Regions from separate parts of the Homo sapiens genome. Here regions 2, 3 and 4 are each linked to region 1. The links come from fine-mapping of genetic effects on gene expression. A gene starts in region 1. Each other region holds a variant in brackets. All regions are shown on one strand. Distances are between the middles of the regions. Region 1 holds the start of MYO1F (myosin IF). Region 2 holds the start of LOC124904633 (a long non-coding RNA gene). Region 3 overlaps MYO1F (myosin IF). Region 4 overlaps MYO1F (myosin IF).

The links.
Region 2: its variant is fine-mapped to the expression of MYO1F in whole blood (TOPMed, PIP above 0.99).
Region 3: its variant is fine-mapped to the expression of MYO1F in whole blood (TOPMed, PIP 0.90).
Region 4: its variant is fine-mapped to the expression of MYO1F in whole blood (TOPMed, PIP 0.98).

Annotation. Positions count from the first base shown.
Region 1 is chr19:8,573,550-8,581,521 of GRCh38, forward strand. MYO1F (myosin IF) reads right to left here and starts at 3,893. Exons shown (of 28, transcript NM_012335.4): 1 at 3,758-3,893. The coding sequence starts at 3,760. ADAMTS10 (ADAM metallopeptidase with thrombospondin type 1 motif 10) reads right to left here. Exons shown (of 26, transcript NM_030957.4): 26 at 6,691-7,453. The coding sequence ends at 7,344. RefSeq lists enhancers at 2,338-2,397, 2,738-2,797, 2,968-3,147 and silencers at 3,268-3,317, 3,855-4,004, 5,225-5,419, 7,231-7,280.
Region 2 is chr19:8,521,785-8,529,756 of GRCh38, forward strand. It overlaps MYO1F (myosin IF), which reads right to left. Exons shown (of 28, transcript NM_012335.4): 22 at 5,554-5,699; 23 at 5,005-5,151; 24 at 4,669-4,817; 25 at 3,695-3,778; 26 at 850-1,045; 27 at 593-762. It overlaps LOC124904633 (a long non-coding RNA gene), which reads left to right and starts at 4,661. Exons shown (of 3, transcript XR_007067131.1): 1 at 4,661-4,760. RefSeq lists enhancers at 893-1,392, 3,969-4,944 and a silencer at 3,849-3,928. The variant G/C (reference allele first, on the strand shown) is at 5,375.
Region 3 is chr19:8,544,552-8,551,036 of GRCh38, forward strand. It overlaps MYO1F (myosin IF), which reads right to left. Exons shown (of 28, transcript NM_012335.4): 9 at 6,011-6,143; 10 at 5,609-5,805; 11 at 3,686-3,766; 12 at 3,485-3,571; 13 at 1,099-1,185. It overlaps LOC124904633 (a long non-coding RNA gene), which reads left to right. Exons shown (of 3, transcript XR_007067131.1): 3 at 1,534-2,774. Among named protein-coding and RNA genes, the nearest start is that of MYO1F, 30 kb to the right of the region's middle. The variant T/C (reference allele first, on the strand shown) is at 4,047.
Region 4 is chr19:8,530,242-8,538,213 of GRCh38, forward strand. MYO1F (myosin IF) reads right to left here. Exons shown (of 28, transcript NM_012335.4): 17 at 6,708-6,814; 18 at 6,258-6,356; 19 at 6,011-6,155; 20 at 218-332; 21 at 1-124. The region is part of intron 1 of LOC124904633 (a long non-coding RNA gene); the gene reads left to right. Among named protein-coding and RNA genes, the nearest start is that of ZNF414, 20 kb to the left of the region's middle. The variant T/C (reference allele first, on the strand shown) is at 2,503.

The DNA.
Region 1 (7,972 bases):
CAACCACCATCTAGTCATCGGCCAGGCACAGTGGCTCACACCTGTAATCTCACACTTTGGGAGGCCAAAGCGGGTGGATCACTTGAGGTTAGGAGTTGGAGACCAGCCTGGCCAACATGGCGAAACCCCGTCTCCACTAAAAGCACAAAAATTAGCTGGGTGTGGTGGCAGGTGCTTGTAATCTCAGCTACTTGGGAGGCTGAGGCACGAGAATTGCTTGAAGCCAGGAGGTGGAGGTTGCAGTGAGCCGAGATTGCACCACTGCACTCCAGCCGGGGTGACAGAGCGAGACTCTGTCTCAGAAACAAAACAAAACAAAAAAACAATACTAGCCATCAACAACCACACATAACCAACTACCATTAGCAACCACAGAAAGCAGCAGTCACCAGTCCTATCCTGTTCAAAACCCAACATTGAACCAGCACCACCATTGCTGATCATCATCTTACCAGAAACCAACAATAAACTACCAGCAGCAAATGAACGCTACTACCAACACCTTTCCTCTCCAAATAACAGCAACCACCGATGGTCATCATTCCACTGGTCACCAAGCATCTCCAGAATTTCCAGCTGAAAACAATCCACCACCAACGAACAACATTAAACACCAACCGCCACCACCACCAGCCCACCTGCAAGAGCCATTATCACCACGAACCTGCAACAAGAAACAGCCACAACCACCACCACAACCAATGACACCAACAACCCAGCAATGACCACTCGCAGCAACTCCTCCCCAATTACCACAATCGTCACCTCCGTCCATCCTCATTGCTGAATCCAGAAATGAATGGACATCCCAGCTAATGGCAGCTACCATGGATCAAGTGCATGTTATGTGCTCTGTAAAGCAATGGTCCCCAACATTTTTGGCACCAGAGACCGGTTTAATGGAAGACAATTTTTCCATGGACCATGGAGCGGGGCATTAGATTTTCTTTTCTTTCTTTTCCTTTATTTCTTCTTTTTTCCCTTTCTTTCTTTCTTTCTTTCTTTCTTTCTTTCTTTCTTTCTTTCTTTCTCTCTCTCTCTCTCTCTCTTTCTTTCTTTCTTTCTTTCTTTCTTTCTTTCTTTCTTTCTTTCTTTCCTTTCTTTCTCTTTCTTCTTTCTCTCTTTCTTTCTTTCTTCCTTTCTCTTTCTCTCTTTCTTTCTTTTTCTTTCTCTTTCTTTCTTTCTTTTTCTTTCTTTCTTTCTCTCTCTCTTTCTTTTTTTTTTGAGATGGAGCCTCTCTCTGTGGCCCAGGCTGGAGTGCAGTGGCGTGATCTCGTCTCATTGCGACCTCTGCCTCCTGGGTTCAAGTGATTCTCCTATCTCAGGTTCCCGGGTAGCTGGGGTTACAGGCGCGCACCACCACGACTGGCTAATTTTTGTATTTTTAGTAGAGACAGGGTTTTGCCATGTTGGCCAGGCTGGTCTTGAACTCTTGACCTCAGGTGATCCGCCCACCTCGGCCTCCAAAAGTGTTGAGATTACAGGCATGAGCCACTGCACCCTGCCAACGGCATTAGATTTTCTTTTTCTTTTTTTTTTTTTTTTGAGACGGAGTCTGGCTCTGTCGCCGAGGCTGTAGTGCAATGGTGTGATCTTGGCTCACTGCAACCTCCGCCTCCCGGGTTCAAGCGATTCTCCTGCCTCAGCCTCCCGAGTAGCTAGGATGACAGGCATGTGCCACCACACCCAGCTCATTTTTGTATTTTTAGGAGAGACGGGGTCTCACCACGTTGGCCAGGATCGTTTCTATCTCTTGACTTCGTGATCTGCCCGCCTCGGCCTCCCAAAGTGCTAGGATTACAGGTGTGAGCCACCGCACCCGGCCGGGCATTAGATTGTCATAAGCAGCATGCAACCTGGATCCCTCGTGTGTGCAGTTCACAACAGGGTTTGCGATCCTGTGATAATCTAATGGCGCCCCCGAGAATCTGAGAGGAGGTGGAGCTCGGGCTTGCTTGCCTGCCACTCATCTCCTGCTCTGTGACCCGATAGGGCTCATGGTTTCTAACAGACAGACCATGGCCCGATAGCAGTCCATGACCCCGGGGGTTGGGGACCCTGTTGTAAAGGACTTCAGAAATACTGTTTCATTGAATCCTTCAGCGATCTTCCTGGCATTCACCACTCCTCCAGGAAGATTTCAGCATCCCCAGACAGAGGTGGGTGTCATTTTTTTCTCTTCTATCATCCTCTGCGATACGGGTGGCCCCTCCCAGACCTTGTCTGCCAAGCCGACTGTTGACTAAGCATTTTCAGAGGGCTTCCTTGGGGAGGGGTTGCCTTTCTTTCAAGTAGCAAATCACTTCCTGTGTTCTTTTGATCAAAGCCCTGCCCATCCCAGGACCTGAGCCTCCCTGGCTTGCTTCTCATCTTGGAAGAATTCCCACCCCAACAGTCTCAGAGCTCCAGCTGATGGTTTGGGTGTGAATTCCGGGATGCCCAATTTCTCATCAGCTTTCCTTTTTTGAGACGGAGTGTGCTCTGTCACCCAGGCTGGAGTGCAGCGGCAGGATCTCAGCTCACTGCACCCTCCGCCTCCTGGGTTCAAGTTATTCTCTTGCCTCAGCCTCATATGTAGCTGGGATTACAGGCGTGTGCCACCACGCCCAGTTAATTTTTTGTATTTTTTAGTAGAGACGAGGTTTCACCACGTTGGCCAGGCTGGTCTCGAACACCTGACCTCAAGTGATCTACCTGTCTCAGCCTCCTAAAATGCTGGGATTACAGGCATGAGCCACTGTCCCTGGCCCTCACTGGCTTCCTGAAAGAAGGTGTTGTCTCTCAGACTAACACCACCTCTGCCTCTTGCCCTATGTCCCTGACTCCACCCTAGTAAGCTGTACCTGCCAAGAATCCTGCAGTGGCCGCTGTCACAGCCACATGCTCTCATCCTCACTGACTGAATGACGAGAAATGAAAGCTGAAGTGGTCTACACAGCAGAGAGCTGTGGGGTGGGGTCAGCCCTGGCCACCTCTTACTTTGCGTCTTATGGTGGTACGATACTGCTAGGAATAGCGCCATGATCACGACAGTCTCCCCGTTGCTATCATCGACAGACCTCAGACTTGACAGGCAGCAACACCTCTGGCTGCCATCCTCCTCTTGGGATAAGGGATGCCCACCAAAGGGTGGCATGGACGTATTCAGCCTCTCCTGCCTCTGCTGCAGCCATACCGCCCGTCACCGGCACAGGGAGGGCGTCAATCCACCCCATCGCTTGTTAGACATAGCTTCCCATCTCAGCCGAGGACTCTGTGGCAGAACCCACAGACCTTGAGAATGTTGCAACTGAAAGACCCCTGAAGAGCAACTTCCGCATCTAGACGGATTTCCAAATATGACATCTGTGGGAACCGGGGCCAAGAGAGGGGAAGTGACTAGCCCAAGGCTACACAGGGAGACGAGAGACTGGGCTGGACTGGGAAAGGGCTCCCTTAATTTGCAAGCAAAGGAGGCTATGTCCTTGTCCCTGCAGACTCTGTGATTCTCCCTGGGCCACCTTCTGTCTTCCAGGTCCTGCCCTATCCTTGGATCCAGGGATACCACCCTGGCATCCCCACCACCTACAGATGGGAGCTTGCTCCCTGGTAAGGGATGCTGGAGGCACCTGAGCTGCACTGAGAGACACCCCACCCCCACAGAAGTCCACCATGCCCCTCCCCTCACCCCAATTTCTGATGGTCATTTTTAGGACACCTCCACCTGGCTGGTGTCCCTCCTCTTTCTTCTTCCAGATCCCACCCTTGAAGGACTTACCATGGTGGGGGGCTGGTGTCTGGGCTCCTGGAGGCTCCTGAATGGGTCGTGATGGAGGTGCAGGTTCAGGGGGATCTTGGGGGTGGCTTGGGCATGGCCCTGCTTCTGCCCGTTCACCGGACTCCCGGCTTTAGTTCCTCTTACAACAGCCCCTTCTCACTTCCTTTGGCGGGAGGGGCCGAGGCCATGGGGGAGGGAAGCTGGGTGTGGAGGGGGGCGGGGAGCTGGCTGTTTGGGGCTCTGAGCCTGAAGGGAGGGGTCAGAACTTGATGGCAGCCACTACTGGACCTCAGAGGCCTCTTCCCCAACTCCTTGGGGACAGGGCTGCTGCAGGAACATTTGGGTCAGCTGGCTGCAGGACGAACCACCTCTTTTCAGGGCGATTCAGGAAGCATTTGGGCTTCCCGGGTCTCTTTTTAAAACCAAGGAAGGGGCCCAGGGGAGGTGGCTCACGCCTGTAATCCCAATACTTTGGGGGGCCAAGGTTGGAGGATCGCTTGAGTCCAGGAGTTTGAGACCAGCCTGGGCTATATAGCATGACCCCATCTCTACAAAAAATGAAAAGAAAAAAAATTAGCTGGGCATGGTGGCATGAGCCTGCAGTCCCAGCTACTCAGAGGGCTGAGGTGGGAGGATTGCTTGAACCTGGGAGGTGGAGGCCTCAGTGAGCCCTGATTGCGCCACTGCACTCCAGCCTGGGCGAAAGAGTGAGACCCTGTCTCTAAAAACAAACCAGAAAAAACAAAAAAACCAAAAAAACAACAACAACAGGGAAGGGTGCCTTCTTCAGCTGTGTCTGCTCTGGGCATCCCTGGGCAACCTCCTTCATTATTATTATTGTTATTATTTTGAGACGGAGTCTAGCTCTGTCACCCAGGCTAGAATGCAGTGGTGCAATCTCAGCTTACTTTAATCTCCGCCTCCTGGGTTCAAGCGATTCTCCTGCCTCAGCCTCCTGAGTAGCTGGGATTACAGGTGCCCACCGCCACACCTGGCTAATATTTGTATTTTTAGTAGAGACGGAATTTCGCCATGTTGGCCAGGCCGGCCTTGAACTCCTGACCTCAGGTGATCCTCCCAACTCGGCCTCCCAAAGTGCTGGGATTACAGGCATAAGCCACCACGCCTGGCCCAACCTCCCTCTTTAGATGACCCTCAGAAGTCACACGTGTTTGTGTGCAGAAGTGGAGGGTACTGGGAAGCAGGTGCATCTGAAAGGTCCCTGACTTTGGATGTCACATCTAGATTTAACAGCCTCCAGTTTGGCTACTTCCTGGATGACTTAGTTACTCCCTTTTCTCATTGTAAAATGGGAACGTGGGTCCCCCCAGCAGAGCCTGGCCCAGGTACGTGTCAGCCTATGAGCTGGTCTTTGGGACACCAGCCAACCACCTGAGGCTCCTCTTGACATGTGAGGAAATGGCAGTTCTAATAGGTTGTTACTTCCCCACACCACCCAGCAAGGAGGTGGCCGAGGCAGGACCCGACCCTGGGAGACCCTGGGGGACCCATGTTCAGATCTATCTTTGGTCCAGGGCGATAAACCCGCATCCCCCTTGAAGATGTTAATATGCAGCGCCCCTAGTGGCCACAGCTGGGAAGGAGCCCGTCTCTGCTGGAATCTCCTGAGCGAGTTTGCAGAATTGACGGGCTTGGGGCATGCAATTCTCAGCAATGTCTCCAGGCACTCAAGAGTGAATATGAATGGGTAAGAGGACCCCACTTTGTTGGGGGCCATCAGGGGAGGCTTCTAGGAAGAGGCAACGTTTGTGCTGACACCGGCGAGTAAGCTGGAGTTAAAAAAGGTAAAGGGGCAGGAGCGTGCACCTGGCCATGCTAAGCGCTCAAGCAAAGGCCCAGATATGGGAAAACCATAGGGCAATTGAGGAAGTTCGGGGAGGCTGGTGTGGCTGGAGCATGCGGAGTGACGGAGAGTGTGATGGCCAGGGTGGCAGGTGCTAGACCGTGTGGCTTTAAGAGCCTCTGTGAGGGCCAGGCATGGTGGCTGATGCCTGTAATCCCAGAACTTTGGGAGGCTGAGGTGGGAGGATCGCTTGAGCCCAGGAGTTCCAGACCAGCTTGGGCAACATAGCAAGACCTCGTCTCTACAAAAAATTAAAAAATCAGCTAGGTGTGCTGTTGCACCTATAATCTCAGTTACTTGGCAGGGTAGGCAGGAGAATCGTTTAAGCCCAGGAGTTCAAGGCTGCAGTGAGCTGAGATCGTGCCACTGAACTCCAGCCTGGGCTACAGAGTGAGACCCTGTCTCAAAAAACAAAAACAAAAAAGCAAAACCCTTCCACGAGAAGCTGTTGTACTTTTCTCCTAAAATCCCTGGGTTCCTGTCTGCAATGTTAAAAGTCCCCTTCTGGCTGGGCACGGTGGCCCATGCCTGTAATCCCAGCACTCTGGGAGGCCGAGGCGGGCAGATCACGAGGTCAGGAGATCGAGACCATCCTGGCTAACACGGTGAAACCCCGTCTCTACTAAAAAAGTACAAAAAATTAGCTGGGCATGTTGGCGGGCGCCTGTAGTGCCAGCTACTCGGGAGGCTGAGGCGAGAATGGCATGAACCCAGGAGGCGGAGCTTGCAGTGAGCCGAGATCGTGCCACTGCACTCCAGCCTGGGCAACAGTGCAAGACTCCGTCTCAAAAAAAAAAAAAAATAAAAAAAAAAAATAAATAAATCAGCTGGGTGTGGTCGTGCACGCCTGTAGTCCCAGCTATTCAGAAGGTGGAAGTGGGAGGATCACTTGAGTCCAGGAGATCAAGGCTGCAGTGAGCTATGATAGGCATAGCTGGGCGACAGGGACCGTCTCAGGAAAAAAAAAAAAGAAGTCCCCTTTTGGCTGTTGGGTAGACCTGGGAGAATGGGTGGTCCTTTCCAGACCTGGGTGGGGGCTACTGGATGCACTGACACACACACACCGCAATTCGTAGAAATCTACACAAGACAGAACTTTATTGATGTAGGGCTTCCTGGCAGGAGTGTGTGGGCCCCAGGGCAGGGTCTGTAGCACCATGAGGGGGTGGCCTGGATGTCGGGGTGCCCCTGGGGCGGGCAGGGCAGAGGTTGGGGTGGATCCTCCCCCTAGTCAGGTCAGGGGAGGGTGTCAGGGAGGTGGTGCTACCCCCCCCCCTCCCATAGCAGACACAGATTCCCCCCCAGCTCGGAGTGGAGGGGTAGGGCAGTGCTGGGGGGCAGGGCACCGGCAGACCACCTCCCCACCCCTACTCTTCACAGTACATATTCCGATCAAAGGAGGGGGGGAGTGTTGGGGACTCCCTAAGGGTGGGTTCAAAGGGTGCTGGGGTGAACAGCTGTCCCCTCCCCAGACCCACCCTGGAGGGGGGGTCTCACTATGTGAACTGGAAGGGGCGGATGCTGAAGAGGGGCTCTGGGGGGATAGCCAGCCCCTCTCCATCCCCCCAGCCAGGGCCCTGCAGGGGTTCCCAATAAATAACTTCCGGCTCCGTCTCACCCTTCCCTCCCAGTTCCCGCCCCCCCGGGGCCCCCTCTGGCCGGCCCGCTGCAGGGCTGGCGGCGGAGACCCCGCCAGCTGTGGCTCCGGGTGCCGCGCGCCCCCTAGTGGCCATGGCAGGTTTTGCAGCACATCTGGCGGAAGTAGGCTCGGCTGCAGAACTGAAATTTGAGCACCAGGGGGCAGTAGGCGACCTTGTTCACATCCTTGCACTCTGCGGGGACGGGAGAAGGAAGGAAAAATCAGGTCTCAGCTGCCCTCCCCGCAGGGCTGCACACACGACCTGCAGTGCTTCCTGGCCAGTGACTTTCTGTGCCTTGGTTTCTTTCTTTTTAAATTTACTTTTTTTTTTTTTTTTTTTTTTTTTTTTTACAGATGTTATCTTGCTATGTTGACCAGGCTGGTCTCCACCTCTTGAGCTCAAGTGATCCTCTCACCTCAGCCTCCTAAGTAGTTGGGACTACAGGTGTGAGCAAACCACGCCTGACTTCTGTGCCTTAGTTTCCTCAACTATCAAAGGGGGCTTATAATAGCACCGATGTCACTAGGCTGTTTTGAGGATTTAAGAGAGAGAGTGTAGGGTTGGGGGCCAACACAGACACATTAGTAATGAGAAAAGGGCCGGGTACAGTGTATCATGCCTGTAATCCCAGCACTTTGGGAGACCAAGGCAGGAGGACTGCTTGAGCCCAGGAGTTTGAGACCAGCCTGGGCAACATAGTGAGAGCACTGC
Region 2 (7,972 bases), 52 kb before region 1:
CTGCATCCGGCCATTTCTACTCTTTAAAAGTTTTTTTTTTGTAAATCTTTTGTAGAGATGGGGTCTTGCTAGGTTGCCCAGGCTTGTCTCAAACTCCTGACCTCAAGTGATCCTCCTGCCTCAGCCACTGAAAGTGCTGGGATTACAGGTATGAGCCACCTCGCCCATCTGTTATCTCTGTTCTCCCGTGGGGAGGGTGTGCAGTGGTGGGGTCTGCCTGGCAATGTCAGTCAGGGTTCTTTTTTTTTTTTTTTTTGAGACGGAGTCTCGCTCTATCGCCCAGGCTGGAGTGTGTTGGCGCAATCTCGGCTCACTGCAAGCTCCGCCTCCCGGGTTCATGCCATTCTCCTGCCTCAGCCTCCCGAGTAGCTGGGACTACAGGCGCCCGCCACCACGCCCGGCTAATTTTTTGTATTTTTAGTAGAGACGGGGTTTCACTGTGTTAGCCAGGATGGTCTCGATCTCCTGACCTCGTGATCTGCCCGCCTTGGCCTCCCAAAATGCTGGGATTACAGGCGTGAGCCACCGCGCCCGGCCGATGTCAGGGTTCTTACCACTCCCCTCACCCCAGCTTCTGCCCTGGTACACACACCTTCCATGAGGATCTCAATGACCTCGTTCACGTTGAAGCTCAGCTCGTCCACATCTTGGCCCACGTACTGGTATAGGGCCCGGCACCTGGGACCATGTGTCCGAGGCTGGGGCTTGGGTCGGCCCACACCAGGCACTGGCCGTTGCCCCACGCTGCGCTTCCTCTGCATGCTGTGGGCACAGGGGGTTTGAGTCACAGCCCCAGACACTCCCCTACCCCCTGCCCACCTCCTGGAGCTGCCCTCCCACCCCACCTACCCGGCCATGCCCTGGTCAGGCACGTTGAGGAATTCTGTGTTGTGCTCTGAGGGCGGACGTGCCCGGGGTCGTCTGCTGGCTCCCAGGGATGTGGACGGAGGGCCCCGGGGAGGCCTGTGGGTGCCCCCTCCAGACATGATCTCCAGGGGCAGGGGGCCCCCTCTGGCAGAGGGGGGCACCCCATTGCGATCCATGCCTGTGGCAGGAGCAAGGATGAAGACATGTATTAGGGTGATGCTAGGAGGATTTGAGGAGGACTTGGCTTCAAGTTCTCAGGCTGAGGGAGGAGACTGCGACACTCTCAACCCAGTGTGGTAAGGATTGGGCCAGACGGAGGGACTCTGCCGCTAGGAGGGCCTAGACAGAAGCTTTTTTAAGCATAATTTTAAAATTATTTTTTACTTTTTTTTTTTTTTGAGATGGAGTCTTGCTCAGTCGCTCAGGCTGGAGTGCAGTGGCGCGATCTCGGCTCACTGCAAGCTCCGCCTCCTGGGTTCACGCCATTCTCCTGCCTCAGCCTCCCGAGTAGCTGGGACTACAGGCACCTGCCACCACGCCTGGATAATTTTTTAAATATTTTTAGTAGAGACGGAGTTTCATCATGTTAGCCAGGATGGTCTCGATCTCCTGACCTTGTGATCCGCCCGCCTTGGCCTCCCAAAGTGCTGGGATTACAGGCATGAGCCACCGCGCCTGGCCAATTATTTTTTACTTTTATTTGTTTATTTTGAGACATGGTCTCACTCTCGCCCAGGTTGGAGTGCAGTGGTACAATCGTAGCTCACTGCAACTCTGACCTCCTGGGCTCAAGCAATCCTCCCTCCTTAGCCTCCTTTTAAGGGGAGCTGGGACTACAGGTATGCTCCACTATGCCCAGTTGATTTTTATAATTTTTAAAGTAGAGATGGGGTCTCACTATGTTGCTCAGGCTGGTCTCAAACTCCTGGCCTCAAGCAATCCTCCCACTTCGGCCTCCCAACATGCTGGTTTTACAGGCATGAGCCACTGTACTTGGCCTTATTTATTTTTTATTTGTTTAGAGACAGGGTTTTGCTCTGTGGCCCAGGATGGAGTGCAGCAGTGAGATCATAGCTCACTGCAGACTCCAACTCTTAGGCTCATGATATTCTCCCCTCTCAGCCTCCTAAATAGCTGGGACTATAGGCACACACCACCATGCCCAGCTAATTTAAAAAGAATTTTTAGGCTAGGCGCGGTGGCTCACGCCTGTAATCCTAGCACTTTGGGAGGCTAAGGTGGGCTGATCACGAGGTCTGGAGTTTGAGACAAGCCTGGCCAACATAGTGAAACTCTGCCTCTACTAAAAATACAAAAATTAGCCAGGCATGATGGCGTGTGCCTGTAGTCCCAGCTACTCGGGAGGCTGAGGCAGGAGAATTGCTTCAACCTGGGAGGTGGAGGTTACAGTGAGCCAAGATCACGCCACTGCACTCCAGCCTGGGCAACAGAGCAAGACACCGTCTCAAAAAAAAAAAAAAAAAAAAGGCCGGGCGCGGTGGCTCACACCTGTAATCCCAGCAGTTTGGGAGGCCGAGGCGGGTGGATCACGAGGTCAGGAGTTCCAGACCAGTCTGGCCAACATGGTGAAACCTTGTCTCTACTAAAGATAAAATTAGCTGGGCATGGTGGTGCATGCCTGTAATCCCAGCTACTGGGGAGGCTGAGGCAGGAGAATCTCTTGAACCCAGAAGGTGGAAAGTTGCAGTGCGCTGAGACCGCACCATTGCACCCCAGCCTGGGCAACAGGGCTAGACTCTGTCTCAAAAAAAAAAAAAAAAAAAAAATCTAGGCGTGGTAGCACACGCCTGTAGTCCCAGCTACTCAGGGGGCTGAGGCAGGAGAATCGCTTGAACCCAGGAGGTGGATGTTGCAGTGAGCCAAGATCATGCCACTGCACTCCAGCCTGGGTGACAGAGCGAGACTGTCTCAAAAAAAAAAAAAAAAAGAAAGAATTTTTGGTAGAGACAGGATCTTGCTATGTTGCCCAGGCTGATCTTGAACTCAAGTGATCCTCCTGCCTTGGCCTACCAAGAGTGCTTGGATTACAGGTGTGAGCCATCTTGCCTGGCCAGGAGTGGCTTTGCAGGGGCAAGTTTCCCTCCTCCTATCCTCTGTAGGAGAGCTTCTGTGGGTACGTCTTGGTGGATAAATAAGAGCTCAACGAATGGAATGGGAATTTGAGAGAGAAGCAGAGAAAACGGCCCAAAGGCCTGGAGGTAAGAATAAATTTTGTGAATTGGGAAAATAAGATGTAGTTTGAGGCCAGGCGCCGTAGCTCATGCTTGTTAATCCCAGCACTTTCGGAGGCCGAGACGGGCGGGTCACCTGAGGTCAGGAGTTCGAGACCAGCCTGAACAACGTGGTGAAACCCTGTCTCTACTAAAACGATACAAAAATTAGCCGGGCGTGGTGGCGGGTGCCTGTAATCTCAGCTACTCGGGAGGCTGAGGCAGGAGAATCGCTTGAATCCAGGAGGTGAAGGTTGCAGTGAACCGAGATCGCTCCACTGCACCCCAGCCTGGGAGACAGAGTTGGACTCCATCTCAAAAAAAAAAAAAAAAAAAAAAAGATGTAGTTTACAGGGCAGGAGTGTAGGGTAGGAGGAGAGAAGATGTCAGTGGTTAGCTGGGTTTGGGTTTTGAAGGGCTCTGAATGCCAAACTAAGTTTAGCCTTTATTCTGCGGGAGATGTGGAGCTACGGAGAGTCCTGGACAGAGAAGTGAGTGGTAAACTGTGTTTGTTAGATTTCGTTTGCTGAAGGTCTGGCTTAGGCCATGGGACCCACAACAGACAAGGGAATATAGCAAGGGACGCAGCTCCTCACCTCTGGGGGGCGCAGGGGCCGCCCGGGTAGGGGCTTGGGACGACCTCCGAGGTTTTCCCTTGGCCATTCCCTTCCGCGTAGGCTCTGAAAGAAGAGTGTCAGGGAGTTGAATGACAGACAGACCACGCTCTTTGCCCCGCCCACAAATCTAGTCCATTCTGAGGCTCCGCCGCACCCCGCCCCCTCAGGCTCTCCCATTAGCACCGCCCCTTAGGTACAGTTACACTGGCTCCGCCCACTAATTGGCCTCGCCCCCCAAGGGCCCAACACCTCACTGGCCTTGCTCTTTGGGCCCGCCCACTTTAGGTCACTCCTTCATCACTACCCAGTTCCAGGGTTGCCGCTCTGGCCGCACCCCTCTACATTTCTCGCCCCCGCATTGGTCATGTCTTCTCCTTAACAGTCTTTCTCTCTCTCTAGACCCGCCCCTTCCTTGCTGTTGCCCTCTCTGGTCCAGCCTGCTGGCCCCGCCCCACTATTTTGATTGGTTTCCTCCATGGCCACGTCCCTCCTCCACATTTCACGCCCACTAATTGGTTGCGGCCTTTGTTTAAAAGTCTGTCTCTCTGGCCGGGCGCAGTGGCTCACGCCTGTAATCCCAGCACTTTGGGAGGCCGAGGCGGGTGGAGCATGAGGTAATGAGTTCAAGACCAGCCTGGCCAAGATGGTGAAACCCCGTCTCTACTAAAACTACAAAAATTAGCTGGGCGCGGTGGCAGGCGCCTGTAATCCCAGCTACTCGGGAGGCTGAGGCAAGACAATCGCTTGAACCCGGGTGGCGGAGGTTGCGGTGAGCCAAGATCGTGCCACAACACTCCAGCCTGGGCGACAGAGTGAGACTCCGTCTTAAAAAAACCACAAAACTCAAAAGTCTCTCTCTCTCTCTCTGTAGACACTCCCCTTCCTGGCCTTCGTCCACTCTTAACCAGCCTCGCTGGCCCCGCCCCCTCTGCCCTAGTTCCGCGCAGACTCACTGGAGCTCTTGGGCAGCCCATCGCCCACGCTGACCGTGAGGGTCCGACCGCCAACCTTGAGCACTGCCAAGTCGCCGAAGCCGCGGGAGAAGGTGACGCTGCGGGTGCCGCCACCGCCCCAGCCCTCCTTCTTCACCCGAAACTGTAGTCTATGGGGAGAGAAGAAAGCTTGGGGGCGCTGGCTGAGGTCCCCCGCCCCACCCAACTCTCGCTGGTTGGGGCAGGGGCGGGGCCGCGGCCGGGGCCGAAGCGCAGTTCGGCCGGGTCGGTGGGGCGGGAGAGGGTGCGCCGCGCCGAGACCACCCCGAGATGGTGCTGGGGTTGGCGGGGCCGTACGTGTCGCTGAAGGTGAGGGGCAGGGGCCTCCGCGTCGCCTCCTCGAAGCGCTTGCACAGAAGGCTGACAAACTCGGTCTTGAAGACGCTCTCCAGGAAGCTGTCGGCGGCATCCTCTTGGAGGATGAAGAAGTCGTCCTGTCGCGTGCTGGGGAGGGGCGGGTGAGAGCGTCAGGTGGGACACAGGTGAGGGCGACAGGTGAGAGAGACAGATGAAGGTGGCTGAAGGTGGATTTAGGGAAGGGTCAGCTAAGGGCCAAGTCAGCGGTGACCAGGTAGGAGAAAAAGGGGGATGTGGCAAGGAGTGGAAGAGGTGGTTACAGAAGAGGGCCAGGTGAGGTCTAGTAAGAGGGTAAGGTGCAGGACGGAAG[G/C]ATTTGGCATCTAAGGATCATGAGCATAGGGGGCAGGTGAACATGACAGGTGGGGCCAACAGAGGGCTACAGGCATGGCACCAGGTAAGATTGTCAGGGTAACAGACGGGGTCACTAGAATGAGGGCAGCCAGGGGACAGGTGAGAGTGACTGTGCGGCAGGTAAGGACCTGGCTTCACCTGAGGGAGACTCCCCGCAGAGCCTGGATGTCCACTTTCTTCTTCAAGACTTCACACACCTGGCCCTTCTCAGGTCCCTTCTTCACTTTCTCTCGCCCAATCACATACACACACTTGGGCGTCAGGATCAAGTCCCGCTTGATGGGCTGTGGGGATGCAGGATTAGAGGCTGATGCCTGTAGCCTGGCCAGCCTGGCCACAGAGGATCCACCCCAGGCAGAGGGGTGGTGCTGGCAGGTCAGGTGAGGAAGGTGGGAGCCCTCCAGGTGAAGGTGTATGAGTCGTCTGTTTTGTAGACAGGGTCTCACTCTGTCGCTCAGGCTGGAGTGCAGTGGTGCCATCATAGCTCACTGCAACCTCCCCCTCCTGGGCTTGAGTGATCCACCTGCCTCAGCCTCCTGAGTAGCTGGGACCACAGGTGCGCACCACCATGCCCAGCTAATTTTGGTATTTTTTGTAGATTCAGGGTTTTGCCCTGTTGCCCAGGCTGGTCTTGAGCTCCTGATCTCAAGCAAACTGTCCTCCTTGGCCTCCCAAAGGGTTGGGATTACAGGTGTGCGCCACCACGCCTGGCCATGAGTTGTTATATAAGAAACAGAAGGAGGGCTGGGTGCCATGGCTCACGCCTGTAATCCCAGCATTTTGGGAGGCCGAGGCGGGCAGATCATGAGGTCAGGAGTTTGAAACCAGGCTGACCAACATGGTGAAACCCCGTCTCTACTAAAAATACAAAAATTAGCTGGGCGAGGTGGTGGGCACCTGTAGTCCCAGCTACTCAGGAGGCTGAGACAGGAGAATCGCTTGAACCCAGGAGGATGAGGTTGCAGTGAGCCGAGATCCTGCCACTGCACTCCAGCCTGGGTGACAGAGCAAGACCCTGTCTCAAAAACAAACAAACAAAAAATAACAGATCAGGCGCGGTGGCACACGCCTGTAATCCCAGCACTTTGGGAGGCTGAGGTGGGTGGATCACAAGGTCAGAAGATTGAGACCATCCTGGCTAATACCATGAAACCCCATCTCTACTAAAAATACAAAAAACTAGCTGGGCGTGGTGGCACATGCCTGTAGTCCCAGCTACTCGGGAGGCTGAGGCAGGAGAATTGCTTGAGCCTGGGAGGCAGAGGTTGCAGTGAGCCGAGGTTGTGCCACTGCACTCCAGCCTGGGCGACATAACAAGATTCTGACTCAACACACACACACAAAAGAGCAAAACTCTGTCTCAAAAAAACAAAAAAGAAAAACAAAAAAGAAACGAGGTCAGATGGGAATGTGTTGGTTGGTTGGTTGGCTAGAAAAGGGTGTTTGGGTCAGTGAACAGGTGCTGGGTAGGTAAGGCACCTGCTGGACATGGGTTCCCGGGCCAGATGAGAACACTTAGACCAGGTGAAAGTACTTGGGTCATGTGACTGTAGCCAGCTCAGGTAAAGGTATTATGGTTCAGGTGAGGGTGTACAAGTCAGGTAAATAGGAGTATCTGGATCATGAGAGGAAGTGAGCGGGTGTGTATCTGAACTCTATGAGTTTGTACAGGAAGGCAGGTGAGGGTGTACCTGGTAGAAGGGTGAATGTGCAAGCCGGTTGAGCTGGCCTGCGGTCAGAGTTCTCTGGGTCTAGTGGGGATACCTGTCTCAGTGAAAACATTTAAGGTGATGGTATACAGGTCACCTGAGAGGGCATACCTGCCACACAGACCTGTCCAAAGCAGGTGGGTGGATCAGGTGAAGGTACCCAATAATGTGTGTCTGGTATGTGAAGTTGTACAGATCATGTGAGGAGGCACCTGCCACATAAACTTGTCCAAGGTAGGTGAGGGTGTCCAGGCCATATGAGACTATCCATCCAGGTAAAGATGGTATATAGGTGATCTCAGTGTGTACCTGCCACACATAGGCCTCTCTAAGGTGAGGGTAGGGTGAGTTACTGGGCTAGGTGACTCTCTGGGACATGAGATATGGGTCAAGTGAGTGTGTACCTGGCCCGCCCAGGTACAGGTGACGGTAAACAGGCCAAGTCTGGGTGTACCTGTGGACAGGAGAGTCCAGGCTAGGTGATTAGAGTACACGTAGGTTCAGGGCTGTCTGGGGCAGAAGAGGATGTGTCTGTTGGTGGAGGTGCCCAGCTGTCTATGCCAAGCATGAATGCACGGGTCAGGTGATGTATCCCTGTAGAGAGCATGTACCTATGGACTAGGCTGCCTGGGCCAGGTGAGAGTGTACCTGTGGACAGGTGTGTCTGGGCCAGGTGAAGGTATATCTAATTTCCAGGTTGAAGGTAGAGTGTACCTAATGGATGGGTGTGTCTAGGATAGGCAAGGGTGGCCTCGTGGTTGGGGCTTCTAGACAAGGTGAATGAATGTGTGATTGTTGAGAGATGCATCTGGCCAGGTGAGGGTGTATCTGACAGGTGTGTCTGGGCT
Region 3 (6,485 bases), 30 kb before region 1:
GGGGTGGAGGAGTGGAGGGAGCTAGAGCTTTGGGGGTGGGGAGGGCACCAGGGGCTTCAAATACAAGCACAAAAGGCGTTGCAGGGGTCAGGGATGGAAGGGATAGGGGGGCAAGGGTGTGTGGGGCTACTGTGGAAGCTCGCTGAGGTGCAGAAGTGGGTGGGGACCCCTCAAGAGATTCAGGCCCCAGACTAGAATCCCTTGGTAGGGGGACCTGCCTTATGTATTTATTTATTTATTTAGAGACGGAGTCTTGCTCTCTTGCCCAGGCTGGAGAGCAGTGGCGTGATCTCAGCTCACTGCAGCCTCCATCTCCCAGGTTCGAGTGATTCTCCTGCTTCAGCCTCCTGAGTAGCTGGGATTACAGGCATGCCGCCACCATGCCCGGCTAATTTTTGTATTTTTTAGTAGAGATGGGGTTTCACCATGTTGGCCAGGCTGGTTTCGAACTCTTGGCCTCAGGTGATCCACCTGCCTTGGCCTCCCAAAGTGCTGGGATTACAGGCATGAGCCACCATGTCCCGCCTAAATACGTCTTAAATTTAATTTTTTTTGAGACAGGGTCTTGTTCTGTTCCTCAGGCTGGAGTGTGGTGGTGCAATCATAGCTCACTGCACCCTTGACTTCCTGGGCTCAAGTGATCCTCCCACCTCAGCCTTCCGGGTAGCTGGGATTACAGGCGCCTGCCACCACGCCTGGCTAATTTTTTGTATTTTTAGTAGAGACAGGTTTTCACCATATTGGTCAGGCTGGTCTCGAACTCCTGACCTCAGGTGATCCGCCCACCTTGGCCTCCCAAAGTGCTGGGATTACAGGCGTGAGCCACCGGCATGGAATCTGCAAATTTGACTCTAACTGTGAGCTGGGGTTCCCGGGGAAATGTTTATTGAATGATTAAGTGAAAGGTGGACAAGTAGGCGGAATGAATGGATGAGGGGCGGAAGGGACATTTTGGTTGTTATCTGTCGCTGGAAGTCCTGAGTGTAGGGTAGAGAAGGGCCTGAGGATGCCATAACACCCTTGGCCCTCCCCCTCATCTTCCAGACTCAGCTCAGGGGACCAGTGAGACGCCCCCGCCAAAGTTGACCCAGCCCTCACCAGCTTGTTTTCGATGAGGTCACAGACGACCTTGTTGTTGAAGTACTGGATTGGAGTCCAGCGGATGCCTTCCTGCACATACTCCTCCTGGGGTGGAAAAGGGGGTGGATGTGGGGGCCAGTGAAAAAGTTGTGGCCACCCTTCCCCCCATGTCCTCTCCCCTTCTCCATCTCATCACTTAGGACTGTCTCTGGTAACAAAGCCCGTCACTCCTATGTGGGCAAGGCTGGAAGTGCCAGGGAATTACATCTGGTTTCAGCAGTCCTTGACCAATAATCAACAGGAGTGGGTGGATAAATACCCCAGCTCCCTCGCTTCTCCGCTCTATGAAGCCTCCTCGAGTCCCAGTGCAGTTGCATTCCGGTTGTCCACAGCATAACGTGCTCATTAACACACTATTTTGACTCTTTTTTTTTTTTTTTTTTTTTTTTTGAGATGGAGTTTCACTCCTGTTGCCTAGGCTGGAGTGCAATGGCACGATCTTGGCTCATCGCAACCTCCGCCTCCCGAGTTCAAGCGATTCTCCTGCCTCAGCCTCCCGAGAAGCTGGGATTACAGGTATGTGCCACCACGCCGGACTAATTTTGTATTTTTAGTAGAGATGGGGTTTCTCCATGTTGGTCAGGCTGGTCTCGAACTCCCAACCTCAGGACATCTGCCCACCTCGGCCTCCCAAAGTGCTGGGATTACAGGCATGAGCCACCGCACACAGCTTGCTTTTTTTTTTTGAGACCGGGTTTTGCTCTGTTACCCAGGCTGGAACTCAGCGATGCGATCCTAGCTCACTGCAACCTTGACCTCCAGGGTTCAAGTGATCCTCTCATCTCAGCCTTCCGAGTAGCTGGGACCGTAGGAGCACACCACCATGCCTGGCTAATTTTTATGTTTTTTGTAGAGATGAGGTCTCACTATGTTGTCCAGGCTGGCTTTGAACCCCCAGGCTCAAGCGATCCTCTTAACTTAGCCTCCTAGATAGCTGGGACTATAGGTGTGAGTGATTGTGTCTGGCTCGGTCTGTCTCTCTCTTTTTTTCTTTTCTTTTTTGAGACAGGGTCTCATTCTGCTGTTGCCCAGGCTGGAGTGCAATGGCACAATCTCGACTCACTACAAGCTCTGCCTCCTGGGTTCAAGCAATTCTCCTGCCTCAGACTCCTGAGTAGCTGGGATTACAGGTGCCCAGCACCACACCTGGCTAAGTTTTATATTTTTAGTAGAGATGGGGTTTCACCATGTTGGCCAGGCTGGTCTCAAACTCCTGACCTCAGGTGATCCACCCACCTCAGCCTCCCAAAGTGCTGGGATTACAGGCGTGAGCCACTGCACCCAGCCTCTCTCTCTCTCTTTGTTAAAAAAATCCCTGTCTCAGGACTGGGCATATTAACTCATGCCTGTAGTCCCAGCACTTTGGCAGGCCAAGGCAGGAGGATTGCTTGAGGCCAGGAGTTCAAGACCAATCTGGGCAACAAAGTGAAACACCAACTCTACAAAAAAGTTTTAAAATATTAGCCAGGCATGATGGTGTGTGCCTGCGGTCCCAGCTACTTGAGAGGCTGAAGTGGGAGGATTGCTTGAGCCCAGGAGGTGTAGACTGCAGTGACCTGTGATCACACCACTGCACTCCAGCCTGGACAACAGAGCGAGTTCCTGTCTCAAAAAAAAAAAAAAAAAAAAAAAAGCGGGGAATGGTGGCTCCCATCTGTAATCCCAGCACTTTGGGAGGCTGAGGTGGGTGGATCACGAGGTCAGGAGTTTGAGACCAGTCTGGCCAATATGATGAAACCCTGTCTCTACTAAAAATACAAAAATTAGCTGGGCATGGTGGTGGGTGCCTGTAGTCCCAGCTGCTCGGGAGGCTGAGGCAGGAGAATCACTTGAACTCTGGAGGCGGAGGTTGCAGTGAGCCGAGATCATGCCACTGCACTCCAGCCTGGGTGACAGAACGAGACTTTGTCTCAAAAAAAAAAAAAAAAATCCCTGACTTACTTCCTCAGTCTCCTCTTGGAGCTTCCTGGGATTGCCTCCCAGAAAAACCATTTGTCTCTGAATCCTTGCCTCAGGCTCTGCTTCTGGGGGAGGGGCAAAATGAAGACAGCAGGGACTATTGCCTTATTGTTCATGGCTGTGTCTCCAAGCACCCTAAACAGTACCTGGCACACAACAGGTGCTCAATAAATAATTGCTGAATGAATGAACTAAGAGGCACGGTCCTTCCCAAAGCTTTAGAGGCAGAAGGAAGTATCACTATGGAGCCTGGGTAGGTTGGCACAGAGAGGTGGGAACGCGGTGGGGAGGGCTGGGGTGTCCCCTAGTTGCTAAGGGATCCTCATGGTCCTTCCACCCCACCCCCACCCCAGGATCCCCCATCCCTGACTGCTTGGCCGCCCACCTGCTCGGCCTTCAGGGTAAGTTCGATAAAGATTTGCTGCAGCTTCTCATTGACGAAGTTGATGCAAAACTGCTCGAAGCCATTTTTCTGCAGAAGGAGGAAAAGGGTCCTTCCCTCAATGTCCTGGTGCTGGAAGTTCTTGTGGCCACCCTGGGCTGCCCCAGGGAGGACAGGATGTGGGCTGGAGGCAGGGGGCCGTACCTGGAAGATCTCGAAGCCGTAAATGTCCAGCACACCGATGCTGTACTCTTCCTGGGGTTTCTGCATAGCACGGTTGATGGCCTGCGGTGTGGGTGGGGACAGGAAGTCAGTGGGCATCGGTCAGATCTGAAGCCCCTGCCCACCACTCCTTAGACACACGCCTAGCCAACTTCATGGGTGATGTCCCCTCATGCCAGTTTCCCTCCAGCCCTCTTTAGCTCTGCCCTTCCTGGCTCTGTGTACAGTCTCCCCACCCCATAATCAGTCACTCAGAGGAGAAACCCAAGTGTCAGTGTATCAGGGTCCCTGACTCCAGAGCTGACTCTGCCCCTGAACCTCTCTGCACCTCTATTTTCTTTTT[T/C]TTTTTTTCTTTTTTTTTTTTGAGACGGAGTCTCACTCTGTCGCCCAGGCTGGAGTGCAGTGGCATGATCTCGGCTCACTGCAAGCTCCGCCTCCAGGGTTCACACCATTCTCCTGCCTCAGCCTCCCAAGTAGCTGGAACTACAAGGGCCTGCCACCACGCCCGGCTAATTTTTTGTATTTTTAGTAGAGACGGGGTTTCACTGTGGTCTCGATCTCCTGACCTCGTGATCCGCCCGCCTCGGCCTCCCAAAGTGCCGGGATTACAGGTGTGAGCCACTGCGCCCGGCCTTGCACCTCTATTTTCTTATCTTTAAAAGGGGTTGATAATAGCAACTACCTTATGGGGCTTTTTCTTTTCTATTTTTTTTGAGATGGAGTCTCATTCTGTTGCCCAGGCTGGAATGCCAGTGGCGCAATCTCGGCTCACTGAAACCTCTGCCTCCAGGATTCAAGAGATTCTTCTGCCTCAGCCTCCCAAGTAGCTGGGATTACAGGCATGCGCCACCACGCCCGGCTAATTCTTGTATTTTTAGTAGAGACGGGGTTTTGCCATGCTGGCCAGGGCTGATCTTGAACTCCTGACCTTGGGTGATCTGCCCGCTTTGACCTCCCAAAGTGCTGGGATTACAGGCATGAGCCACTGCACCTGGCCATACATTTTATACTTTATTTATTTTTATTTTTTATTTTGAGACAGGGTCTCAGTCTGTTGTCCAGGCTGGAGTGTAGTGGCTTGATCATGGCTCACTACAGCCTCAACCTCCTGGGGTCAGGGATTCTTCCACCTCAGCCTCCTGAGTAGCCGGGATTACAGGCACCAGCCACCATGCCCGGCTAATTTTTGTATTTTTGTAGAGACAGGGTTTTGCCATGTTGCCCAGGCTGACTCCATACATTAAAAAAGTTTTTATTTTATTTATTTATTTATTTTGAGACAGAGTCTCTCTCTGTTGCCCAGGCTGGAATACAATAGCACGATCTCAGCTCACTGCAACCTCCACCTCCCAGGTTCAAGTGATTCTCCTCCCTCAGCCTCCCAAGTAGCTGGGATTAAAGGCATGTGCCACCACTCCCGGGTAATTTTTAGTAGAGAGGGGGTTTCACCATGTTGGCCAGGCTGGTCTCAAACTCCAGACCTCAAGTGATCCATCCACCTCAGCCTCCCAAAGTGCTGGGATTACAGGCATGAGCCACTGCATCTGGCCAAAAGTTTTTTTTAGAGACAGGGTCTTGCTCTGTCACCCAGGCTGGAGTACAATAGCGCAATCATAGCTCACTGCAGCCCCAACCTCCTGGGTTCAAATGATCCCCCAACCTCAGCCCTCTGAGTAGCCAGAACTACACATGCACACCACTACACCCAACTAATTTGAAATTTCTGTAGAGATGGGGGTCTTGCTATGTTGCCCAGGCTGGTCTTGAACTTCTGGCCTCAAAGAATGCTCCCAACTCAGCCACCCAAAGCATTGGGATTGCAGCCGTGAGCCACTGCACTCAGCTTCCATAAATGTTTGTGACCCCAGAGCATCCACTCTGCCTTCCAGCCCCAGCCCCACTCGCCTCCACGAGGAAGTCGAAGAGGCGGGCATAGAGCCCCTTGGCCAGGGCATCACGGGTGTAGGCTGCCTGCTCCACGTTGAGGGTCACATTGATGGACTCGCTGCGCCCGCCCCAGCGGCTGTCCATCTTGCGGCTGGTCAGCTTCTCCTGCAGTCGCCCGCTGTCAATGCCCAGCAGGTAGGCGGGAAAGGCCAGGACTACCAGGGCAAAGGTCAGGGCAAAAATGGGACAGTTGGTTGGGCTCTTGTGCCTCCTGCATGGGCCTCCTATTATCCCCATCTTGCCCAGTGACACCCACATTTTTTTCCTCGTGGGCTTTCAGCTTCCTGGGGGCTGAGCTAGGAGGACGCAGTTCACCCACCCACAGGCCTCCATCCAGCCCTCCCTGATACCCACACTCACGGTCCACACTCTCCACTCGGGCGTAATTCCCGTCTTCACAGAAACTGATGTTCCCCAGGTGCAAGATCCCCGCCACGAGCTGCAGGACCAGCTGCTGGATGCTGGGCGGGATCCCAATAACCTGCATAGCACTCTGTGGTACAACGGGGGCAGAAACTGTGCCGTGAATCCTGGCCTCCAACCTGCCTCCAGGGGCAGGCTTGAGGGACCACAGCACGGACTCAGGGAGTGAGCACCCTTGGGTCCCTGTCCTACCCCTTTCAGTCACTTGCCGCGTGACCTTGGGTAAGTGCCTGCACCTCTCTGGGCTTTGTTTTTTATTATATTTTTTATTTTTGAGACAGAGTCTCCCTCTGTTGCCCAGGCTGGAGTGCAGTGGTATGATCTTGGCTCACTGCAACCTCCTCATCCCAGGTTCAAGCGATTTTCCTGCCTCCGCCTCCCGAGTAGCTGGGATTACAGGCGTGAGCGTCGT
Region 4 (7,972 bases), 43 kb before region 1:
CGCTCCCTCTTGCCCAGGAACTGACGCAGCTCGGGCCGCTCCTCCAGCCCCAGGTAGTCCCCGACGAAGTTCCGATTGATGCTGTTGCGCCTCCGCTCCTTCTTGTTCAGCAGGATGTTGGAAGCTGCGGGGACAGAGGGTGGAGGGCAGAGCTCCTGATACAGCTCCTCCAGGTCCTTGTGCCCCCACCCCGCGCCGTTTACCCGAAGCCTCTCACCTTCCTCCCGCATCTCCTCGTACTTCCGGACAGCCACGTGGCGCCGCCAGGCCTTCTGGATGGTTCGGGCAAAGCCATCGAACTTTCGCTCTCGCACCTCCTCCAGGAGGAAAAGCTGGGCGGGGGTCGTGGGGGGCAAGGGTGAGTCCTGGTGTCTCCCCAGGGGCTGCAGTTCCGGGTTTTCCCTGCGCTCACCCTACTCACACGCTTTTGCTCACCCATCCCCACACATGTGCTAATTTTTTTAAGAGGCGGGGTCTTTCTAGTGACACTCGTTCATAAAGAAAAGAAGAAAAAGGGGCCGGGCGCAGTGGCTCACGCCTGTAATCCTAGCACTTCGGGAGGCCGAGGCGGGTGGATCACCTGAGGTCAGGAGTTTGAGACGAGCCTGACCGACATAGTGAAACCCCATCTCTACTAAAAATACAAAAAGAAATTAGCTGGGCATGGTGGTAGATGCCTGTGATCCCAGCTACTCGGGAGCCTGAGGCAGGAGAATCACTTGAACCCGGGAGGCGGAGGTTGCAGTGAGCTGAGATCGCGCCATTGCACTCCAGCCTGGACAACAAGAGTGAAACTCCATCTCAAAAAGACAAAAAACAAAAACAAAAAAAGCTGGTGGCTCATGCCTATAATCCCAGCGCCTTGGGAGGCTGAGGCGGGAAGATCGCCTGAGGTCGGGAGTTTGAGACCAGCCTGATCAACATGGAGAAACCCTGTCTTTACTAAAAACATAAAATTAGCCGGGCATGGTGGCACATGCCTGTAATACCAGCTACTCAGGAGGCTGAGGCAGGAGAATCACTTGAACCTGGGAGTTGGAGGTTGCGGTGAGCTGAGATTGTGCCATTGCACTCCAGCCTGGGCAACAAGAGCAAAACTTCATCTCAAAAAAAGAAAAAAAGAAAAAGACAGGGTCTCGCTCCGTCGCCCAGACTGGAGTGTGGTGGTGCAGTCATAGCTCACTGCAGCTTCAACCTCTTGGGTTCAAGTGATCCTCCCACCTCTGCCTCCTGAGTAGCTGGGACTACAGCTGTGAGCCACCATGCCCAGCTAATTTTGTGGTGATGTGGTCTTGCCATGTTGCCCAGGCTGGAAAAATTTTTATCTTCCTCCAAATGACTGGACCTCCCTGTGCGTCTCTCCCCATGTGGGGTACACACTTCTGCCTTACATGATAACAGTGAGTCACTAGCTTCAGATCACAGCTGTGCCACTTACTACCTGTGTGCTTTTGCAAGAAACGGTATGATGTCACGGTTTCTTACACTGTTACTCGACACTATCCACGAGGTACACTGCCGTGTCAGAGATGGTAGAAATAGGAACCAGTGTGCATCTTGGAAAACCAATAAAATACAGTAAATATGAAAATGTGGCCGGGTGCAGTGGCTCAAGCCTGTAATCCCAGCATTTTGGGAGGCCGAGGTGGGCGGATCACCTGAGGTCAAGAGTTTGAGACCAGCCTGGCCAACATGGTGAAACCCCGTCTCTACTAATAATACAAAAGTTAGCCGGGTGTGGTGGCGCATGCCTGTCATCCCAGCTACTCGGGAGGCTGAGGCAGGAGAATCGCTTGAACTCGGGAGGTGGTGGTTGCAGTGAGCGGAGATTGCGCCACTGCACTCCAGCCTGGGCGACAGAGTGAGACTCAGTCCCCCGACCCCTGAAAAAAGAAAAGAATGAAACTCCATCTCAAAAAAAAAAAGAAAGAAAAAGAAAATCTGATGTGTAGAACTGTGATGTGACTAGCAACCGTGTGGTTGGGCAGTGTACAACCTGCACAGCCATCCGTAGCAGGCCCAGAAAGGAAGCTTTTGCAGAAAGCAGAGAAAAGGGTTTTGAGTTGTAAAAGTCTAGACCCAGAGGGGACTTAGAGAATGAATTACATTACAGCAAGTCAAAGTACAAAGTCTAAGAGGAATGTCTACTCATTTGTAATAACAGCAGGTGAACAAGGTGAGGAACCTACTGGATATTAAAATACTGTAAATCTATAGTAATAAAAACAATAGCATGCCTGTCAGAGAATAGAATGATTAACTGGAATAGGGCAGATGCTTGAGAAACATCCTACTTCAAAGAGAAACTGTGATCAAAGGGACAATATTGTCAATTAGTGAAGATGGGAAATAATGCAAATATAGGCTGGGTGCGGTGGCTCATGCCTCTAATCCCAGCAGTTTGGGAGGCTAAGGTGGGAGCATTGTTGAGCCCAGGAGTTCAAGACCAGCCTGGGCAACATAGAAAGACCCCGTCTCTACAAAAACTAAGCAAAAATTAGC[T/C]GAGGGTGATGGCACGCATGTGTAGTCCCAGCTATTCCGGAGGGTGAGGTGGGAGGATTCTTTGAGCCCAGGAGGTTGAGGCTGCAGTGAGCTGTGATTGTGCGACTGCACTCCAGCCTGGGAGATAGAGTGAGATCCTGTCTCAGAAAAAAAAAAAAATACACACACACACACACACACACACACACACACACACACACACACACAATTGGGCTTTATTTAGAAAAATTAGCACTTCACCCAGAGTGCTTTCCCAAGTCCATAGGTAGCACATTGCTGCTAAGAGCCTTGCTCCCTGCTCTGCTGACCAAAATAGTTTTAATTTTTTCAGAGACAGGGTCTTGCTCTGTTTCCCAGGCTGGAGTGCAGTGGTGCGATCTCGGCTCCCGGGCTCAAGGGATCCTCCCACCTCAGCCACTCAAGGCTAATTATGGTATTATTATATATATATTTTTTTGGTAGAGAGGTAGAGTTGGGGTTTTGCCATGTTGTCCAGACTCGTCTGGAACTCCTGGGCTCAAGGAATCTACCAGCCTTGACCTCCCAAAGTGCTGGGATTACAGGCGTGAGCCAGCGTGCCCAGCCTCAGATTCTTCTTCTTCTTCTTCTTCTTCTTTTTTTTTTTTTTTGAGACGGAGTCTTGCTCTGTCGCTCAGGCTGGAGTGCAGTGGTGCGATCTTGGCTCACTGCAAGCTCCGTCTCCTGGGTTCACGCCATTCTCCTGCCTCAGCCTCCCGAGTAGCTGGGACTACAGGCGCCCGCCACCATGCCTGGCTAACTTTTTTGTATTTTTTTAGTAGAGACATAGTTTTGCTGTGTTAGCCAGGGTGGTCTCAATCTCCTGACCTCATGATCCGCCTGCCTCGGCCTCCCAAAGTGCTGGGAATTACAGGCGTGAGCCAGCACGCTTAGCCTCAGATTCTTCTTTAAAACCTTTAGAGAGTATGGCCATGCCAACACCTTGATTTTGGACTTCTGACCTGCGGAACTGTGAGAGAATAAATTGCTGTTGTGTTAAGCCATGGAGTTTGTGGAACTTTGTTTCAGCTGTCCCAGCAGACTATTATAACATACCTGGGATGCTGGGCCACAAAGGCCAACAGGCAGATAAAATGTTTGAGGATGGCCCAAACCATGTTCATAAGAAAATCAAAATAGGGGCCGGGCGCGGTGGCTCATGCATATAATCCCAGCACTTTGGGAGGCTGAGGTGGGCAGATCACTTGAGGTCAGGAGACCAGCCTGGCCAACAGGGTGAAAACCCATCTCTATTAAAAACACAAAAATTAGCCTGGTGTGGTGGCGGGTGCCTGTAATTCCAGCTACTTGGGAGGCTGAGGCAGGAGAATTGCTTGAACCAGGAAGGTGGAGGTTGCAGTGAGCCAAGATTGCGCCATTCCACTTTAGCCTGGGTGACAGAGCGAGACTCTGTCTAAAAAAAAAAAAAAAAATTCATCCCAACATGAATGCATTTTTGGTTGAGAAAGGCTCCAACTCCATTAAGCTAATTTAATTTCTTGATTACTTTTTAAATATAGCACAGTTAAACCGTTGGCTATTTTTCTTTTCTTTTCTTTTCTTTTTTTCAGAGTCTCACTTTGTCCCCCAGGCTGGAGTGCAGTGGCGCAATCTCAGCTCACTGCAACCTCTGCCTCCCAGGTTCGAGCAATTCTCCTGCCTCAGCCTCCCAGGTAGCTGGGATTACAGGCACGTGTCACCATGCCCGGCTTATTTTGTATTTTTAGTAGAGATGGGGTTTCCCCATGTTGGCCAGGCTGGTCTCGAACTCCTAACCTCAAGTGATCCACCACCCTGGCCTCCCAAAGTGCTGGGATTACAGTTGTGAGCCACCGTGCCTGGCCTTTTCTTCTATTTTCATTTTACTAATTTTTTTTTTTTTGAGATGGAGTCTCACTCTGTTGCCCAGGCTAGAGTGCAGTGGTGCGATCTCGGCTCACTGCAACCTCTGCCTCCTGGGTTTGAGTGATTCTCCTGCCTCAGCCTCCTGAGTAGCTGGGATTACAGGTGCGCACCACCACACTTGGCTAATTTTTTGTATTTGTAGAAGAGACGGGGTTTCACCATGTTGGTCGGGCTGGTCTTGAACTCCTGACCTCGTGATCCACTCGCCTCGGCTTCCCAAAGTGTTGAGATTATAGGCGTGAGCCACTGCACCCAGCTTATTTTACTAAAATTAAATTACTGTTGCCCAGGCTTGAGTGCAGTGGCACGATCTTGGCTCACTTCAGCCTCTGCCTCCTGGGTTAAAGTGATTTTCCTGCCTCAGCCTCCTGAGTAGCTGGTATTACAGGTGTGCACCACCACGCCCAGCTAATTTTTGTACTTTTAATAGAGAAGGGGTTTCACCATGTTGGCCAGGCTGGTCTCAAACTCCTGACCTCAAGTGATCCATCCACCTCAGCCTCCCAAATTGCTGAGATTACAGGTGTGAGCCAGTGCGCCTGGCCAGCAAGATTATTTTCATCAGGATTATTTTCTTTCTTTTATAAATATTCAGTCTGTCTTTGTTGTTGATGTTCTTATAGGATTTTACCACTAAGCATCTGCCATCGTGAATTTCATTATTTCTACCCCGTCCGTCTTCTCCAAATCAAAATCTATAGACTGAAATTTTTGTCTAAATTAAATTTTACTTTATATAGTCTTTGCTGGTGATAGTTATTTTTCTTTTTTCTTTTTGTCTTTTGTAGAGACAGGGTCTCACTATGTTTCCCAGGCTGGTCTCGAACTCCTGGCTTCAAACCATCCTCCTGCCTCAGCCTCCCAAAGCACTGATATTACAGGCATGCGCTACCACACCTGACTTGGTGCTAGTTTTATTTTGCCTTTTTTCTGTTCTATGTCAAAATTTTTGGTCTATTTCTTCCAGAGTGTCTCTCTCAATCTCTCTCTCTCAATCTCTCAATCACATTCTTTCTTTCTTTTTTTTTTTTGAGACGGAGTCTCGCTCTGTCGCCCAGGCTGGAGTGCAGTGGCGTGATCTCGGCTCACTGCAACCTCTGCCTCCTGGGTTCAAGCCATTCTTCTGCCTCAGCCTCCTGAGTAGCTGGGACCACAGGTGCCCGCCACCATGCCCGGCTAATTTTTTTTGTATTTTTAGTAGAGACGCGGTTTCACTGTGTTAGCCAGGATGGTCTCGATCTCCTGGCCTTGTGATCCGCCCTCCTCAGCCTCCCAAAGTGCTGGGATTACAGGCATGAGCCACCGCGCCCGGCAGTCGCAGTCTTTCTTAATCTCTCGCTCAGTCTCTCTCAGTCTCTTACTTTCAGTCTATTAATCTCTCACTTGCTTTCTCAATTTCTCTCTCAACCTCTATCTCAGTTTCTCTGTCAATCCCTCTCTCTCAATCTGTTTCTCAATTTCTCAATCTATCAGTCTTTCTCTCAATCTCTGTCTCCCTCTGTCTCTCTCTCTCTCTCTCAGTCCCTCTCTATACCTTTCTCTCTCTTCCCCTCTCCTTCTCTGCCTGTCCCTCAAACACACTCACCGACTCTGGGTTCTTGACAAAGACCTTGGTGCTCCCCATCTGGTACTGGTCGGGCTCCATGTTGACCGCCCGAAGCAGGTGCTGGACGCCCTGGCGTTCGTCCCCACGCCACCGCGGCCACGTCTCGGGGGTCAGAATGGCATACCTGAGGGCGGAGGGCTGGGGTGTGGGAGTGCTCATAGCAGACAGGCCTGGCTGGGCGTTCTGATGAAGGGGATGGCGAGGGCGGGGGTGGAGGGCTCCTCACCTCTGCAGGAATTTGGCGAACTGGCGGCGGTAGGCGAAGCCGGCTCTGCGCACCCTGATGTTCTCCTTCAGGCCCAGGTATTCCACCTGGTGCTTGACTCTGGTGGGGAGGGTAGGCTGAGTCCCCTCGGGGTGGGGAGTCACCAGTCCTGGGGGTGGGTGGGAGGTGCTGGAGGTGGGGGACCTGGGGGGATCTGGATTCATGCTGAGGGAAGTTTGGGGGGTGAGTTCTGTGGTCTGGGGGGGCTTCGGGGGTCAGCCTGGGGACTGGGGGGAGGGATCTTGTCCTGATGGTCCCTTCTGGGGTCAGTTCTGCAGGTGGGGGATTGTGGGAGGGGCTGTGCTAGTCCCTGGGTCATCCTACAGGAGGTCAGGGAGGTGTCTCGGTCAGTTCTAGGGGTAACTGCAGGGCCTGGGGGGAATGAATCTTGGATTGGTTGGGGGGGATCACCTGTTCTCCTCCCAGTCTCGGGGCCTCTTGGTCTCGTTGGGTTTGATGCAGCGGATGTAGTGGGGTGTGCACCTCATCAGTGTGGCCACCAGGTCGTTGGCTTGTTTCTGAGGCAGAAGTGAAGACGGGTGGGTGGGGGGCACAGAGATGGGACCCTCTGGCCCCTCTTTTTTCCACCCTGGATACAGTCCCAATAGACAGAGACTGGGGGTGGGTGAGGGCTGGTAACAGATAAGCCACAGGGGCCAGATGTCCCTGGTCTGTGTGCACCTCCACTAGTGCACACCACACTAGTGGGACTGATGTGGGGTGTCTGCCTGACCCTGGAACCCAAGACAAGGAGCTCTCACGTCTACCGCACTCACCACTTACCTTGGCACATAGTAAGTGCTCAGTAAATGTTTGTTGACTGAGTAACAGAGCCCTTATGAGAGCATTTCTTTTTGTCCTTTGGGGAGATAGGTACCTTGGGTGTTTGTTTTTTTTGTTTTGTTCTGTTTTATTTTGTTTTGAGATGGAATTTTGCTCTGTCACCCAGGCTGGAGCGCAATGGTGCCATCTTGGCTCACTGCAACCTCCACCACCTGGATCCAAGAGATCCTTCTGCCTCAGCCTCCCAAGTAGCTGGGATTACAGGCATGTGCCACCACACCCGGATAATTTTTAGTAGAGACAGGGTTTTGCCATGTTGGTCAGGCTGGTCATGAACTCCTGACCTCAGGTGATCCATCCACCTCTGGCTCCCAAGGTGTTGGGATTACAGGCATGAGCCACTATACCTGGCTGGGTGATTTTTTTTGAGACAGGGTCTCCCTCTGTCACTCAGGCTGGGGTATAGTGGCGCCGTGATAGTTCACTGTAGCCTCAGCCTCCTGTGCTCAAGCGATCAACTGCCTTAGCCTCCGGAGTAGCTAGGATTACAGGTCTGAGCCACTGTGCCTGGCTAAGACATGTACTTTGGAGGTAGGGAAACTGTGTGTATGCCTGAGAGGTTTGCCTTGGGTTTTGCATTTTGTTTTATTTTTATTTTTATTTTTATTTGGAGACAAAATCTCGCTCTGTTGCCAGGCTGGAGTGCAGTGGCATGATCTCGGCTCACTGCAACCTCCGTCTCCCAGGTTCAAGTGATTCTCCCACCTCAGCCTTCCGAGTAGCTGCCACCACACCCAGCTCCTTTTTTTTTATATATATATTTTTAGTAGAGACGGGGTTTCACCATGTTGGCTGGGCTGGTCTTCAACTCCTGACCTCAGGTGATCCACCTG